Linked DNA regions of Homo sapiens. The protein of the gene in region 2 purifies or fractionates together with the protein of the main gene of each other region. This does not show direct contact. Each region holds a gene or a part of one and is shown on either strand. Other genes may lie near its edges.

Region 1 (3,500 bases), on a different chromosome or scaffold from region 2:
CTGATTTATTTAACTTCTTTGATAATAACTTCAAACCTAGCAATCATCTTTCTCCTGTGAAGGCCCACTTTATATGAGGCATGAATATTTTAAATTTTTCCTCATAGGATTTGAGGCTTTGTTGACCTGTGTGTGTCACTAAGGCTTTGTATTGTTTTGTTGTTTGATTTTTGCTAGCATGCTTACCACACTGCTTTCTTCACTATATTTTAAGAAATGTAAACAGTCTCATTGTCTCTCGGCCACGTCTTGTGAGTGGAGAGTAGGTGTGGTGGTGGGATTGAAAGGAGAGTCAGGGTGGGAGGACGTTCATCACTGCATTGATTTACTTCACTATCTGTATTACAAACTTCCAAAAAAGATAGAGATTGATAAAATGCTGAGATATAATAAAAAGAAAAATTTATAAGAGGAGACTGAGAGGACAAAATGCGGGTGATGAAGGGTTTCCCCAGAACTGCAGAATGTGCACTCCACCGGGGTCCAGCACTGTTGTCAGTTGCATTCACTTCTGTATCCTCAGTGTCTTGAAGAGTTCCTGGCACCAAGTAGGTGCTTAACAGATGTTTGATGAACAATAAATATATACTTGCAGGTAGTTTTAAAGCACAAAATCGGGGTTCTCTTTGATGGAATCATTAAATTCTGAAAGAACAAAGAAGGCAAGATGGAGAGTAGTGATTGAGTCTCTCCTATAAGCTATGTCTCTTGGAGAGGGGATAGATAGTAATATTGCTGATTTTTAACTCAAGCTGGGAGCTGCATTGTGGTGTTTTCAAATTCAAGGGTTATAATTTGCTTGGGCGTATATCACGACATTCCAGGATTTGAAGGAAAAATAATTTGCTCCTAAAATTGTCCAGCCAGCACTTCTTCCCAGCTCTTGTGGGTGGTTAGTAAAGGTATTGTAGAGGATAGGCAGTCAGGACAAAAGGCCCTCATGAGGAGGATTTCCTGTCCTGGACACAGAATTCCAAAACCAAAATCATTCAAGAGATGGAGCAGAAGAGGATGCGGGGAAAAGAGAATCTATCTCGAGATAATGTGGGGTGTAGAATGTAATTAAAATGTCTATATGTGTGGCTATGGATGTTTAATATACAGATTCTTGTGTTAGGGATTTTAGAGAATCAGATGGCCTCATTTACCACCAAATTTAAATTTTTTTTTCTAGGCTGTTGTTCATGAATCTGAAGGATTGTTGGGGTACATTTACTGTGATTTTTTTCAGCGAGCAGACAAACCACATCAGGTGATCCTTTCTTTATAAACTGGTCTCTCTAGAACCGATCGGCATTTCATTTGTATTGATGTGAACTTTGTATCATTTTTTAAATTCCATGACATTTAAAAGTTACTAATGATGGTTACCAAATATATACATTTGAAATTAAGATAGAATTTTAAAATTAAAAAGTTTATGGAAATAATTACATCAGTCTATATTTGTCACTTTTATCTGGGTCATGGTATTAATTATAGTAACAATGACAACTGACATTTTATGAATCCTTATTTGTGCCAAACAGTGCACTGAGCCCGTTATACACATCAGCCTTTTAATGTTCGCCTCACCCTTTTGACTAGTTACTCACATTATGAGGAAACTGAAGCCATAGAGGTTAAGCTACTTGGCCAGAAGTGCTAGGACTTGAAGGCATACATCCTGAGCAGATCCCCAACTTTTAACTCTTTTCCATACTCGACAATGAACCTATTCTAAAACTGCGGAAGATACTCCATGTGGAAACCTTACCAACCACCAAGTAGCTCCTTATGTGGAAGACTTGAGGCAGCTCATCTCCTTTTCTTTAGCATTGGCCGACTTTGACAGCCAGTCAGCTTTAGCAGTTTCATGTAGCTTGATGGGAAATGTCAAGAGTTTAGGTTATAAGTTATAACAGAAATAATGTACCTTATGTTTGAATAGTGATTCACAATTTCCAAAGCACAGATTTTAACAGATGTGAGCTTATGAATTCTGGACAGCCACTGTGGGATTTGACAAGGAAGCATTTTAGAGATGAGGCTTGCAGAAGCAAATTATTTTCCGAGATGATTTGTCTAGTAGGTGTGAAAGGTAGGAACAGGGTGCAGGTCACCAGACTCTGAGGCCAGTGTTCTTCCTCTTTGCTTAAATGGGTGGGTGGTGGAGACTCAACTTTAGTGATTAGGAGCCCTGGCTCCTAATAGTCAGCCTGGGTTCAGATCCAAGGTGTGGCAGTTCTAGCTAGGTGTCCTTGGACATGTTATTTAATAATCCTAAGACTAGTTTTAGTTTTATCATCTGAAAAGTGAGATACCTGCTACATAGGGTTGTTGTGGAGAATAAGTGATACAGTGTATGTGAGTCTCAGTGTAGTGCCTGTTTCAGAGTAAGTTATTCTGGCTCCGGATCCCTTGCTTTACACTAGTTTAGATCCCATCTCGTTCAAGTGATAAAAGTCAAGAGAGGCTGGGCGCGGTGGCTCATGCCTGTAATCCCAGAACTTTAGGAGGCTGAGGCTGGCAGATCACTTCAGTCCAGGAGTTCAAGACCAGCCCTGGCAACATAGTAAGACTCCATCTGTACAAAAAAAAATCTAAAAATTTAGCTGGGTGTGGTGGAGCACACCTGTAGTCCCAGCCAATCAGTAGGCCAAAGCAGGAGGATGGCTTGAGCCCAGGAGGTCCAGGCTGCAGTGAACTGCGATCACAACACTGCACTCCAGCCTGGGCAACAGAGCAAGACCCTATCTTAAAAAAAGAAAAAAAAATAGCCAAGAGACATGGAAAGTACCTACTAGTTCATTATCTGACACATAGTAGGGACTCAGAATAAATGTTAGTGTCCCTTCGTAAGTTCTTTGCTGACTTTGTTTCCAGCTTCTGGCACAGCATCATTTCAATGCATGTTTTGGGACCAAAGTAATGAGTTAATCCATAGAAACTGAATGTGTTCTTGATGTTTTAAAAAATTAAAATTTTAGCAGAATAAAAAATGTCAAGAAAAGGTGTATATATGTAAATAGATAGAATAAGAATATAATTAAGTTAAAGTTTGCACTCACACATTTTTGGTGAAATTTTATATTCATTAAGACTGTTTTACTCTTCACATTACCAAATACTTTCTTTTCCTTTTATGTTTTCTGATTCTTAAAGGATTGCCATTTCACTATCCGTGGAGGCAGACTAAAGGAAGATGGAGACTATCAACTCCCAGTTGTAGTTCTTATGCTGAATCTTCCCCGTTCCTCAAGGAGTTCTCCAACTTTGCTAACTCCTAGCATGATGGAAAATCTTTTCCATGAAATGGGACATGCCATGCATTCAATGCTAGGACGTACTCGTTACCAACACGTCACTGGTGAGCCATGAGGAGGGCTTTTATTTACTACAGTCCTTTACAAACATACATTTTCTTTGAATTGGGAAAGGGGCTTTTTATTTGGAAAATGTGATCATTTTACCGTGTCCTGTGGTCTTTATCTCAGATTGCCTCATCCTGCCCTCCCCAT
Region 2 (3,500 bases):
GAAAATAAACTTTCATATCAGAAAATAGGTGTTTTAACAGTCGTGCCCTGCTGTGCCAATTATGATCGCTTTGTATTCACTGACGCAGAATGGCATGGATGGTTAAGAGATGGACTCAGGAAGGTTTGGTTTAGCTCTCATCTGTTGCCACTTTCTAACTGTGCGGCCTTCGGCAAGTCCCTTAACCTTTCCAGGGCTTAGTTTACTGATCTGTAAAATGGTGATGTATGTTCACCTCATCGTGTTAATGCAAATATTAAATGAGATAATGTATGCTTCATGCCCAGGACAGCACCAGTCACACAAGGACCACACAATACATGGAGATTGGTAGGGCTGTCTTTGTTAGTACATGAAGGGTATTTACTTACCCTTAAATACAAGCAAGTAAGTAAGTCACAGCCCCCACTGTACAATGGAATCAATTCTACTTGCCCTACAGGGTTACCATAAGGCAACGAACGTGAAAGCACTCTGAAGTGCGCAAGATATGAATTGTACTTAAGACATTAATGTTATGCCATTTTCCAAACTATTTTGGTTTTATACATTTATTATACCATTTCCTTTTTTCCTTCATAATATTGATAATTAATAATTATTTTTCTGACTACAAAAATCCTGCCCACCTTCTATGATGGATTCAAGCTTTTTTTTGAGACGGAGTCTTGCTCTGTTGCCCAGGCTGGAGAGCAGTGGTGCAATCTGCAGGCTCCACCTCCTGGGTTCACACCATTCTCCTGCCTCAGCCTCCCAAGTTGCTGGGACTACAGGCACCCGCCACCACACCCGGCTAATTTTTTGTATTTTTAGTAGAGATGGGGTTTCACTGGGTTAGCCAGGATGGTCTCAATCTCCTGATCTCGTGATCCACCTGCCTCGGCCTCCCAAAGTGCTGGGATTACAGGCGGGAGCCACCGTGCCCGGCCTCATTTAAGATTTTCTAGTAGCCACATCTAAAAAGAAAAAGGGACAGATGAAGTTAATTTGAGTAATATAGTTTACCCAACAGATCCAAAATATTATCATTTCAACACTAATCAATATAAAAGTTATGAATTTTATATTTGAGGAAGACTATTTTCCTTGTAGTGAGTCTTTAAAATCCAGTATGTGTTTTATTCTTCCAGCACATTTTAATTTGGGCCAGCCACGTTTCCAGGGCCAATAGCCACATGCAACCTGTGGCTACTATACTGGGCAGTCCAACTCCAGGCAGTCTTCCCTCGGCATAATCAGAGCCTGAAAATGATGAGGAGGAGGAGGAGGAGGATGAAGCACTTCTCATGTACTAAGTGCTGGTCTAAGAGTTATGTATTAATCATATTTAATACTCACAAGTGAATCCATAAAGTGGATTATCTTGTTCCCAGTATAAAGAAGAGAAAGCTAAGGCTCAGAGAGGTGAAGGGACTTGCACAGTTACCCAGCTTGAAGGCATCATTTGCACTTCAGTGGGCACCAGTGGATGGCTGGGGTGGAAAGCTGGGGAATGATCAAAGTCACCTCATTCCAGCCCTGACAGGCTTCCCTCTGTGGATCCTGTTGCTCCTCTGTGCCAGGCTGGTGATACAGCTTAGATTCCAGTGGGGAATTCAGAAAAGAACAGGTAAACAAACAAAATAATTACAAACTGTGGTCAACTTTGAGGGACAGCTGGAGCTTGAGGGAGAATATGTGGGAGATATGGAGGTTGGCAGTACCAAGTCAGCCTTCTCTGACTTGGTGGTCAGAGAAGGCTCCGAGACTGAGACCCAAGGATTGAGGAAGAGCCAGGGTTGGAGAAAGAGCATGTGCCAAGGTCCTGGTATAGCAAGGAGCCCAGCCCACGAGGACCTTCAGGAAGGTTGAGTGGCTAGTGTAGGATGAGCAAGAGGAGAAGGGAGAAGGGGGCACCAGACAGACACCGGCCAATTCACACAGGGCCCTGAAGATCCCAGGAGGAAGTTCACATTTTGTTCTCTGGGTCCTAGGAAGCCCATGAGTGGGGCTGGAGGTATGGGGTGGTGTGATCTGATGCTTTTTTTTTAGATGGAGTCTTGCTCTGTCGCCCAGGCTGGAGTGCAGTGGCACGATCTTGGCTCACTGCAACCTCCGCCTCCCCAATTCAAGTAATTCTCCTGCCTCAGCTGGGATTACAGGCACATGCCACCATGCCCAACTAATTTTTGTATTTTTTTTTTTTTAGTAGAGATGGGGTTTCACCATGTTGGCCAGGCTTGTCTCAAACTCCTGACCTCGTAATCCATCCACCTCGGCCTCCCAAAGTGCTGGGATTACAGGCATGAGCCACAGCTTCCAGCCAATCTGACATATTTTTTAAAAAGTTCCTTCCAGCTGCTGTGTGGTGAATGGACTGCAGTGTGGGTTGGAGAGTGGGTTCTGGAAAACCAGCGAGGAGATTATTATGCTAACAGGAGAGATGGCAAGGTGTGATACAAGAAAGTGATCAGAAAGGGGCTTAGCCATTGCCCCTTTGTCAGTCCCAAGTGGGAACCAGGCTACTTGGGAGAAAAACACAGGCACCGACTGTCTGTGCGGATGCCCCTCTCTGCAGCCTCCCGGTTGTAGCTGAAGGATGCTGCCGTCAGTGTTTCATGCACCATTCTCCCCGAATCACTGTCTACTCCTTCACCCGGCTTCCTGTCTCCAATGCCCAGCACAGGTCCTGGGATGCAGTAAGCATCCAATCAATGTTTATGACATCAAAGGAATAACTTTCCAGTAGTATGCAGCTGTTAATCTAGAAAGGACCTCTTCCCAAGATAGAATTGTGTCCTTCTGCCAATAGATACATTTAGGCGCATGTTTTTTGTTCATTATTGTCTTAATATGACCCTGAAAATAATACACGCTCATCATAAAATATATTCAAGCCCTGTAGAAACCCATTAATTAGAAAGTGGAAGTCCCTTATAATTCTACTTCCCAAGGGAAACCACTGCATCAAAAACCAGGTGCAGGCCAGGCACAGTGGCTCACGCCTGTAATCCCAGCACTTTGGGAGGCCAAGGTGGACAGATCACCTGAGGTCAGGAGTTTGAGACCAGCCTGGCCAATATAGTGAAACCTCGCCTCTACTAAAAATACAAAAATAAGCCAGGCATGGTGGCACACACCTGTAATCCCAGCTACTCGGGAGGCTGAGGCAAGAGAATTGCTTGAACCTGGAAAGTGGAGGTTGCAGTGAGCCAAGATCACACTACTGCACTCCAGCCTAGGTGGCAGAGTGAGACCCCATCTCAAAACAAAACAAAAACCAGATGCAATTTCTTTCATATTCTCTCCTACCTCTGTCCCTCCACCAGTATTAGCATTATTCTGTACACAGCACACATGCATTTTCTTCTTAGATTTCTTTCCATGGCAATACAATAAATCTGCTTCAGTCTTTTTTAACCTGCTGAATATTTTCCTGGCCCCATGGGGAAATCTTCCAGCGACACACACTCAGCGTATACAAAAATGCTCCCTTTTTCAGTTGCTTTTCTGTCTGGGTG

Evidence for each region.
Region 1: the proteins of STPG1 (region 2) and MIPEP purify together in Homo sapiens (affinity purification with mass spectrometry; one large-scale study listed by BioGRID and IntAct). This does not show direct contact.

The regions. Positions count from the first base shown.
Region 1 is NC_000013.11:23,837,401-23,840,900, reverse strand, and holds part of MIPEP (mitochondrial intermediate peptidase), read left to right. Parts: intron 1-1,174; coding exon 1,175-1,252; intron 1,253-3,144; coding exon 3,145-3,349; intron 3,350-3,500. UniProt on the Homo sapiens protein: Cleaves proteins, imported into the mitochondrion, to their mature size.
Region 2 is NC_000001.11:24,375,783-24,379,282, reverse strand, and holds part of STPG1 (O(6)-methylguanine-induced apoptosis 2), read left to right. Parts: intron 1-3,500. UniProt on the Homo sapiens protein: May positively contribute to the induction of apoptosis triggered by O(6)-methylguanine.